Regions from separate parts of the Homo sapiens genome. Here region 1 is linked to region 2. Evidence: fine-mapped expression QTL. A gene starts in region 2. The other region holds a variant in brackets. All regions are shown on one strand. Distances are between the middles of the regions. Region 1 overlaps OSBP2 (oxysterol binding protein 2). Region 2 holds the start of TCN2 (transcobalamin 2).

Region 1 (5,000 bases), 110 kb after region 2:
GATCCTCCCACCTCAGCCTCCTGAGTAGCTGGGAATACAGGTGTGCACACCACCACACATGGCTAATTTTTAGATTTTTTTTTTTTTTTGAGGTGGAGTTTCACTCTTGTTGCCCAGGCTGGAGTGCAATGGCGCCATCTCGGCTCACTGCAACCTCTGCCTCCTGGGTTCAAGCGATTCTCCTGCCTCAGCCTCCCAGGTAGCTGTGATTGATTACAGGTGCCTGCCACCATGTCCAGTTAATTTTTTGTGTTTTTAGTAGAGACGGGGTTTCAACATGTTGGCCAGGCTGGTCTTGAACTCCTGACCGCAGGCGACCTTCCCACCTTGGCCTCCCAAAGTGCTGGGATTATAAGCATGAGCCACCACACCTAACCTTTTTTTTTTTTTTTTTTTAACACAGGATCTTGCAGTGTTATCCAAGCTGGTCTCGAATTCCTGGGCTCAAGTGATCCTCCCACCTCAGCCTCCCAAAGTATCCCACCTCAGCCTCCCGAAGTATCGGGATTACAGGCCTGTGCCACCATGCCCAACCACAAGCATCTTTTCTTTCTTTCTTTCTTTCTTTTTTTTTTTTTTGAGACAGAATCTCGCTCTTGTCGCCCAGGCTGGAGTGCAATGGCATGGTCTCGGCTCACTGCAACCTCCACCTCCTGGGTTCAAGTGATTCTTCTGCCTCAGCCTCCTGAGTAGCTGTGATTACAGGTGCCTGCCACCACACCCAGCTAATTTTTGTACTTTTAGTAGAGATGGGGTTTTGCCATGTTGGCCAGGCTGGTCTTGAACTCCTGACCTCAGGTGATCTGCCTGTTTCAGCCTCCCAAAGTGCTGGGACTACAGGCATAAGCCACCACACCTGGCTGAGCATCTTTTCATATGCTTGTTGATCGTTTGTATAACATCTTTAGAGAAATGTCTGTTCAAATCCTTTTTTTGTTTGTTTGTTTTTTTGTTTTGTTTTGTTTTTTGTTTTTTTGAGACAGAGTCTCACATGGTTGCCCGGGCTGGAGTGCAATGGCTCAATCTCGGCTCACTGCAACCTCCGCCTCCCAGGTTCAAGCAATTCTCCTGCCTCAGCCTTCTGAGTAGCTGGGATTACAGGTGCCCACCACCACGCCTGGCTAATTTTTTGTATTTTTGTAGAGATGGGATTTCACCATGTTGGCCAGGCTGGTCTCGAACTCCTGACCTCAAGTGATCTGCCCGCCTCAGCTTCCCAAAATGCTGGGATTACAGGTGTGAGCCACCATGCCTAGCCCCTTTGCTCATTTTTTAATCATTTATTTGATTTTTGTTGTTGAGTTGTAGAAGTTCTTCTTACATTCTAGACATTAACCCACTGTCAGATATATGATTAGCAAATATTTTCTCCTATTCCATAAGTTTCCTTTTTACTTTGTTGATTGTGTCCTTCAAGGAACTTAAGTTGTGTCCTTCGATGGAGTCCCATTTGTCTGTTTTTGCTTTTGTTGCCTGTGCTTTTGGTGTCATATCCAAGAAATCATTGCCAAATCCAATGTCATGAAACTTTATGCCTATGGTTTTCTCTAGGAGTTGTACAGATGTTACATTTAGGCATTTAAATCTATTTTGTTTTAATTTTACTGTTTTTGTGTGTGTGTGTGTGTGTGTGTGTGTGTGTGTGTGTGTGTGTAGAGACAGGGTCTCGCTATGTTGCTCAGGCTGATCTTGAACTCCTGGCCTCAAGTGATTCTCCTACCTCAGCCTCCCAAGTAGCTGGGATTATAGGCAAGAGCCACTGCACCTTGCTGGGTCTTTAATCCATTTTGAGTTAATTTTTGCATATGGTGTGAGATAAGGGTCTAACTTCATTCTTTTGCACAAGGACATCCAGTTTTTTCAACATCATTTGTTGAAGAGACTGTCCTTTCCCCCACTGAGTCATCTTGGCATCCTTGCCAAAGATCATTTGACACAGGGAAAAAATCAAGGCCTTTTGAAAAAC[G/A]CCTACACTAAGGGGAAATGACACATGTTTTACTGTCCAGCTGCAGCTGTGCCATCCAGGACCAGATGGGAAGTTACATCCAGGAAAGTGGACCTCTAGAGTCCCTTCTCACATCTCTAGGCTTTGCTCACTAGCTATAAAGCCCTGTACTTACAAAAAGAATGATTGCCATAGCCTGTAAGAAAGCAGATGGAAGTCAAAAGCAGATCCTTAGGTTGATGACAAAGATTGCTGGTTGAGACTCTTATTTTGACACTTAGAGTCTCCTTATTCATCTTCTATTCATCTCAAATATGTGCCAACATGACTCCCCCTCAGGACTGGCCTCATCTCTGCCTCTCCAGCATCATCATCTCCTGCTGATCCCTTGCTCTACTCTGACACCTCAGTGACAATGGGTTGTGTGTGCATTCTGACAGGCGAGGGTGGGCGGGAGTTAGAATCGAGTCCTCAGCTCACCTGTCCTCCTGGATCAAGCAACTTCAAAACACATTGCCCAGTGGTGATTTAAACTCTGAGGTTAAAGCAGCAGTGGTTTTCTCTTGCTTGAGGGTCCGCAGATGACCAGGCCAGGTCTCCTTCAGGCAGTGGCACTTGGGAGTAAGCTAGGAGGTGTGTCTTCCTGTTGTGATGGCAGAAGTACAGGAGGGTAATCGAGAGTCACAGCATCCCAGCTTGAGCCTGCACACCCTCACTCCATTCCACATTCCATTGGCTGAATCAAGGCATGTGGCCCTGTCCAATATCAGTAGGGTGGGAAGATATCCATTCCCCATTTTAGAGGATCCTACAAAGTCCAGTGGCAAAAGTTGTGCACTTAAAATTGTAGTTCAGGGATGGCAGAAAGAAACAGGAGAAATGCTTCAGTCTGTCACAGCCTCTAACCTCCCTTCTAACGATCACATCCTTTAGCCTCTTTATCTATAGAGTGAGAGGACTAGGCTAGGTGATGTCTGGGGTTCTTTCTATCCTTACCTTTCTGAAAATTTGATGGGAAACCATCTGGAAGGAGGAGGAGGAGAGATGAGATATAAAAGATGACCTGTATGCTTGGCACTGGGCTTGGCACATCAAAGGACTCGGGAAATGTCTGTTGACTTAATGGCTTGGAGATCTGAGTCCAGGAGGCCAGGAATCTGGTGACTGACCTGGTAGGGAAAGAATGGGGGATGCTTTAGCTGGGCCTCAGGTGTTCACTGGCCTTCCTGCCCCTGGGGCCACAGGCCCTGGGCACTGCTGTTGGAGTTGCAACTTTACAACTTCGGAGTTGCAGTGACAACATCCGGGTGCTTGTCTCCCCCTTTTTTTTCCCCCTGCCAGTACTAACAGATTTGTTGCAGAAATGGCCTGGGCCCTTGCTCCTGAGCCCTGGGGCAGCATGGGAACAGGGCTGATGGTGTGTTCTGGTTCTCAGACTTGGGAGCCTTGCGGGCAGACTGAGTGGGGACTTTTTGCTGAGTTGTTCATGCACTGTGACAAGAAAGGCACCTTCTTTGAATTTTTTATTTTCAGAAAATAAAATTATTTTGCTAGATACAGGCATGGAAGCAATTTTCTTCTTTTGAATCCTGCAGTTCTTCTGAGTTTGAATTTATCTGTCAGCTTACTGAGCCTTTGCCTTCTAGAGACGGGATTAGAGTGTTCTTAACCTTGAGCTGATTCCCGCTGTGCCTTCTCTCCAGCCTGTACTTACCTGAGTGCCTCGCAGTCCTCTCAACATTATCCCTGGCTTCAGGCTGCTGCCCTCCTCACTCCCCTTCTCTTTCAGCCTTAGTTTGTGCTCGGTGGCAGTGTGTGTCATTATGTGTGCATGTGCAGCTGTGTGGCAGGACCAGTAGCTCATGTTTTGTCTGTTCCCTCCCAGAAGTCCCAGCCCACAGTAAATCAGTGTTCAGTAACTGATAGCCAGCCACACACTGCAGAGATGTGCCATGAATGGGAAGCTGATTAGATTTTCCAGGGCCCTGGAAAAGTTGCCTGGTGTGGTGGCAGAAGAATCTCTAGGTAAGGAACTTAAAAGTCACCAAGGCCAGGCACAGTGGCTCACACCTGTAATCCCAGCACTTTGGGAGGCCAAGGTGAGTGGATCACTTAAGGCCAGGAGTTTGAGACCAGCCTGGCCAACATGGCAAAATCCCATCTCTACCAAAGATACAAAATAAGCCGGGAGTGGTGGCGCACCCCGGTAATCCCAGCTACTTGGAAGGCTGTGGCATGAGAATTGCTTGAACCAAGGAGGCAGAGGTTGCAGTGAGCTGAGATGGCACCACTGCACTCTATCCTGGGCAACAAAGTGAGACTCTGTCTCAAAAAAAAAAGAAAAAAAAAAAAAGTCACTGAGCCAGAGCCAGGATAGCTTGAGGCCAGGAGTTCAAGACCAGCCTGGACAACATAGAACCCATCTCTCAAAAACAAACAAACAAACAACAAGGGAACAACAACAACAACAAAAAGTGCCATCAAGCCAACCATCTCTCTGTTCATTGACTTCTTCCCATAGCATCTCAACCCCCTTATCACCTCTCAGGTAACAGAGAGCAAACCTCTAAGATAAGCTGATTGTTCCTTAAACAACTCTGAATGTTAGAAAATCCTTCTGTTGAGCTGAGATAGGTTTCCGTGCAACCTCTGTCCTCATTGGGATATTTCTCTGTCCCACACAGCTGGGGTTATCCCTTCCACATGGATGTACTTTTCATCTTCAGAGAGGCTGTCTCAGTGTTACTGTGTATTATCTGTTGCCGCATAACAAATCACCTTGAAATTTAGCACTGTAAGACAACAATAAGCATTATCTCATTGTTTCCATGGATCATGAATTCACCTATGGGTGATTAATTGGGGTGATCCTGAGTGGGCTCAGGATCTGTCATGAGGGCTGCGGTCATTTGAAGGCTTGACTGGCTGGAGACTCCACTTCCATTGTGGCTCACTCACACGCCTGGCAAAATGGTGCAGGCAATTGGCAGGAGGCCTCAGTTCCTCACCCTGTGGATTTCTCCAAAGGGCCGCTCGAGTGTCCTCACAACATGAC
Region 2 (5,516 bases):
CTCCAGCCTGGGCAACGAGTGAGACCCTGTCTCAAAAAAAATAAATAAATAAGAAAAAATAAGAAATGTTTCCTGTTGATGTTGCAGCTGGCTTGCAGCTGGCTTTAGAGGTCCCTGTTATCCCAGTCTAGTGGGAGCACAGGCAGACTTTTACTTTCTCATTCCAAGCTAGTTTTCACCACAAATAGAAATCTTGATCTGGCCAGGTGCAGTGGTTCATGCCTGTAATCCCAGCTCTTTGGGAGGCTGAGACAGGAGGATCGCTTGAGCCCAGGAGTTCAAAAATAAAAAAAATAGAAATCCTGATCTAAATGATGTAATCATTTTTGTTTTTCACATTCCCTGACCACATGACCTGAAATAGCACTACCCCTGACCAGTCACTCTATTTCTTTTTTTAATTTTACTTTATTTTTAGGACAGGGTCTCCTTCTGTCGCCCAGACTGGAGTGCAGTGGTCTGATCTCAGCTCACTGCAACCTCAGCCTCCTGGGCTCAAGTGATCCTCCCACTTGTAGCCTCTAGATTAGCTGAGACTTACAGGCACACACCACCATCCCTGGCATTTTTTGGTTTTGTTTGTTTTTTAGAATCAGGGTCTCACCATCTTGCCTAGACTGGTCTCAAACTTGTGGGCTCAAGCAATCCTCCTGCCTTGGCTTCCCAAAGTGCTGGGATTACAGGCATGAGCCACCAGTATTTCTAATATGTATGGGAAATATGCTGTCTTCCTATTCCTACTCCCCCACCCTCTAGCACTGAGTCCAGGTAGGTAGGCAGGGGGGTGTCTCCCTCCTTTACTTCGACACCCTAACTACCTTGGGGATCAGAAGTGACTCTCTGGAAGGATGCTGCTGCTTCTCACCAGAGGCTGACGATAACGAAGGCTATCCTCCATGGCCACCTCCTCCAGGCTGCCTTCCTGGAAATAGGAATCATAATAGTTGTTACTGGAAACAGGCAGAGGGTTGGGGGAGCCAAGGCAGTCCCACCCAGGACCAAGGTGGCTCCATTGCACACACTTCACCATGACTCCCCTGAAGGTCCAAACGTGCGGTTCTGCGGAAGTTGGGCTCCCCACTGGCCTCCCTCCTTCCTCAGAACCTCCAGGGGTGCTCCTCCTAGTGGCCACATCCAGCCTTTCTGACTGGACAACCTATCATTTAAAATTTTCAAGTAGTTCCGTAAACAGACACACGTTGCTGTATTTATTTATGTCAAGGGCTTGGTTTGTGATAAATCAGGCTCAAAAAGATTGTCTTAAAAGAGTGAACCTTGGCAATTTACCATAAAATAATTGCAATGCAGATTGTGCATGGAAATGATTGGAGATATTTTAAGGTCATAGTGTCTTCACAAATTGAGCTGAAAGGGAACTGTTAGGATGATCTTGCCTAACCCTCTCTTCTCACACAGGAAGAACTATTTTAAACTCGAGAGGTTAAGTGACCTGGCCAAAGTCACACAGCCACCACTAGTTAACTCGTATACATTGATTCTCCTGTGGGGCTGGGCAGATGAGGAATCTTTTGTTCTCTTCCCTGTTTGCAGAGATTTTTTTTGAGGTTACTTTCCGAGTTCTGGCAAGTACCCCTGCTTCTGGTAGCTTTGTGTCTCGATTCAATCTCATTCTTTTTATTTTATTTTATTTTTGAGACAGGGTCTCACTTTGTCACCCAAGCTGGAGTGCAGTGGTGTAATCTTGGCTCACTGTAGCCTCCACCTCTTGGGTTCAAGCGATCCTCCTGCCTCAGCCCCCCAAGTAGCTGGGATTACAGACGTCTGCCACCACGCCAGGCTAATTTATGGTTTTTTGTATGTGTTTTTTGTGTTTTTGTAGAGACAGTGTTTCCCCATGTTGCCCAGGCTGGTCTCCAACTCCTGAGCTCAAGTGATCTGCCCGCCTCAGCCTTTCAAAGTGCTAGGATTACAGGTGTGAGCCACCGTGCCCGGACTTAATCCCATTCTTTAACTTGTTTTGTTTTGTCCTCTCCAGGAGGCTCCCAGCCCTTTCGGATTGGTTGAGAAAAGTGGCCTGGCTGGTCTGGGGCCAGCGGCACCCACCCTCCCCTCAATTGCCCAACTCCCCCCCCCCACCGAACTGCCCAACTCCCCCTCCCCAACTGCCCAACTCCCCCACCCCCACAATCCCCTCCCGCCACAACTGAGGGAGGCGGTGCTGAAAAACAGCTGACTCCAGCAATGCTGCTCACGTGACCACTGCAGCTGCAGCTCCCGTTCCACTCCTTGTCCTGGGCTAGGTGGGCACTACCAGGGGCTCCTTTGGTAAGGAGTACCGGGTAGGCACCCGGTCCTGCCAATCCACCACTGGAACAGCTGGGGGGACAGCAGACAGGCACGGTCGGACAGACTTGACAGATCAGGCATCAGGCCCTCTGCGCTGGTCCCGGGCTCTTTAAGCAGGAACGTGAATGGCCTCAAGATGTCTCACATGGTCCCACTAGCCCTCCTCCTCCCTTTGTTCCCTACCTCCAGGAGGGCTGCTCTGCCCTTCCTTCCTCTGTTCTTTGGCCTTATGTTCCCCGCCACCACAGACCTTCCCCCGCCCCACCCCTCTGCAGACTTAGCCGTGCATTGCAGGCATGGAGGATTAATCAGTGACAGGAAGCTGCGTCTCTCGGAGCGGTGACCAGCTGTGGTCAGGAGAGCCTCAGCAGGGCCAGCCCCAGGAGTCTTTCCCGATTCTTGCTCACTGCTCACCCACCTGCTGCTGCCATGAGGCACCTTGGGGCCTTCCTCTTCCTTCTGGGGGTCCTGGGGGCCCTCACTGAGATGTGTGGTGAGTAACTCGCCTCTATCCTGTGCCTCTTTCCTCCTGGGTCCTTAGTGGGGTGGCTAGGGCATAGGATGAGGGAACTTACCTGCCCTTCTAAGCTCCCATAGCAGTTTGGGCTTAGCTGGACCTCAGCATTTAACACATCCTATTGTGATTGATTATATGTTTGACTCCTCACCAGACAAGATCTCCGTTAATTCAGTCATTCGTTCACACATTCATTCAGCGCATACTGAGCCTTTTCTGTGTCAGGCCCAGTGTTAGCCTTTGGGGAACGTGCAAAGCATGAGACAAGTCTAATCCCTGCCATCCTAGAGCTTATGTTCTAGGGAAGGGGGACAGACAAAAGAAATGGTTAGGTGCTCCCACCTGAAATCTCAGCATTTTGGAAGGCTGAGGCGGGAGGGGAGGATCGCTTGAGCTCAACAGTTCAAGGTCAGCCTGGGCAACATAGGGAGACCCCATCTCTACAAAAAATAAAAAAAATTAAAAAATAGCTGGGCATGGGGAAGACTTTCTGAAGACCAAGAGGACACATGGGAGCTGAAACTCGAAGGAAGAAAAGGAGCTGGCAGGAAAGGAGTGGGGGACACACATTCTAGGCAGCAGGAAGTGAGCCTTCGGAGGTCCTGCCTGCTCCAGCTCTGTGCCCCAAGGGGTCTCTTGGAGCACAGTCTCCTGGGACCTGTCTATGAGTCTGAGCTTAGAGGCTCAGGGCTGCTCCTTCAGACAGGAGGCAGAAGGCAGGCTTTGGGAACTTTGGGCCGCCCACGCGCCTTTTCTCCTCCTCTGCACCTAGGATTACGTTGAGCAATACACTTTCACCCCCATGGTCTCTTGAGACCCTGGGGAAACCCTGAGAGGTGGGTGCAGTCATGTCCAGGTGTCAAGTGAAGAAGTCGAGGGTTGGAGGGGCTGAGTGACCCACTCAGGGTGCTCCACCTTTTCCAGAGCTTTGCTGAACTTAGTTTTTAGAACTTGAAGCCTCGTTTGTTTTCGTTTTGTTTTTTGTTGAGAGAGGTTCTCCCTCTGTTGCCCAGGCTGGAGTGCAGTGGCACGATCTTGGCTCACTGCAGCCTCTGCCTTGTGGGTTCAAGTGATTCCCCCACCTCAGCCTCCCAAGTAGCTGGAGACTGCATGTGCATACTACCATGCTTGGCTAATTTTTGTATTTTTTTGTAGAGACAGGGTTTCGCCATGTTGCCCAGGCTGGTCTCGAACTCCTGGGCTCAAGTGAAACTCTTGCGTCGGCCTCCCAAATTGCTGAGATTACAGGCGTGAGCCACCGTGCCCGGCCAGAACTCCAAGCCTCTCATCTGTGTTCCATAAATGCAATCAGACACCTCAGGTCTGGGCCCAGGAACCCCAGCTCTTGGTTCATGTCCGGACAGTCCCCAGGGGAGTTCTGGGTTCAACCAGCAAGAGCTCTTCCTCCTGGCTGATCTGGTCCTCAGCCTTGGACAGTTAGTCCATTAACCTGACCCCACAGGAGCCCCAATCCCTTGGGGTCTGGGGAATCTTGAACTGGGGTTTGGGGTGCAAATATCTGCACTGAGTCACTTAATTGCACCCAGCCTCATTCCTTTATCTGTAAAGTGGGCTAAGAATGCTCCCCTGCCTTCCTCCTCGGTGTAGTACAAGGAAGGATCCCATGACACCTGCTCTCCCAGTTTAAAGCTCTATATGTATGTTGTGAAATTGACAGGGATCGCTGCACAAACGCTAATGCAAAGTGGGCTCCTGTGCTTCCTTTTCTCTTTCTTCTTCTTTTTTTTTTTTTTAATTTTCTTCTAGAGATGAGGTCTCACTATATTGCCCAGGGTTGGTTTCAAACTCCTAGGGTCAAGCGATCCTCCCACCTTGGCCTCCCAAACTGCTGGTATTACAGGCGTGAGCCACTCTGTCTGGCTCCTGTGCTTGTGAATGTCAACAGCAATCAGCCCTTAGCTGGCAGGGCTGGGTTGGTAGGGCGAGAGCTCACCCAAGGCTGCTTTTATTACCCTGCGTGAATCTGCCTGGCCCCTTCCTTCTAAGGAGGTTGCTCTGTGGTTGTCAGTCTCTCCCTTTACAGCTGGATCCTGATCTTTCAGTTTCTAACCCTGTGCTGACTCATCGTGCTGGAAGTGAGAGCCCGGGGTGAGGTCAGGGAACTCCCTTGCGCGTTTCAAGAAAAGGGAAAAGGAAAGAGAGGTGAGGAGGGGGGCAGATGACCAGAGAGACACAGGCTGAGAGAGACTGAGACAGACCCAGAGAGCCTCACACATTGAGTGACAGAGACGGAGAAATGGAGATAGGCACCAAAAAATGGTTCTCAGTGACAGAAAGGGAAAAAAGCAACCCCCCAGTCTCTCTTAACATCTGGTGAGAAACCAGCCATGTGCTTTGGTCTGGGCCCACACAGCAAAGGATTATGTAGGGTTTCATGCTGGTGGATGGTCACCTTATAGCAACAGGTATCTGGGGCTGTCGGGAAAACAGACACGAGGTTGTGGGACCCAGACCCACAGAGATGGAGCTGTTCTAGGAGCTCTGGTCCTCGTTCTGGTCCCCTGGGATATGGCACAGTGAAGGCCACCATCAGGCAGCTGGAGCCCAGCAGCAACTGGGAGGCAGTAAACAGGGACCGAAAGTGCAAGGTTACCTCCGAGGCAAACTACTCTAAGCTACCCTGTGCTGAGCTCAAGTCCCTTGGAACTATCCCTAAGGCTTCCGCTTCCAG

Evidence for each region.
Region 1: its variant is fine-mapped to the expression of TCN2 in fibroblasts (GTEx, PIP above 0.99).

Annotation. Positions count from the first base shown.
Region 1 is chr22:30,715,480-30,720,479 of GRCh38, forward strand. All of the region lies in intron 1 of OSBP2 (oxysterol binding protein 2), which reads left to right. Among named protein-coding and RNA genes, the nearest start is that of MIR3200, 14 kb to the right of the region's middle. RefSeq lists an enhancer at 1,369-2,568. The variant G/A (reference allele first, on the strand shown) is at 1,967.
Region 2 is chr22:30,604,596-30,610,111 of GRCh38, forward strand. TCN2 (transcobalamin 2) reads left to right here and starts at 2,579. Exons shown (of 9, transcript NM_000355.4): 1 at 2,579-2,800. The coding sequence starts at 2,737. It also overlaps a transcript of PES1 not described here. RefSeq lists enhancers at 2,365-2,944, 2,447-2,741, 4,727-5,021, 4,796-5,075.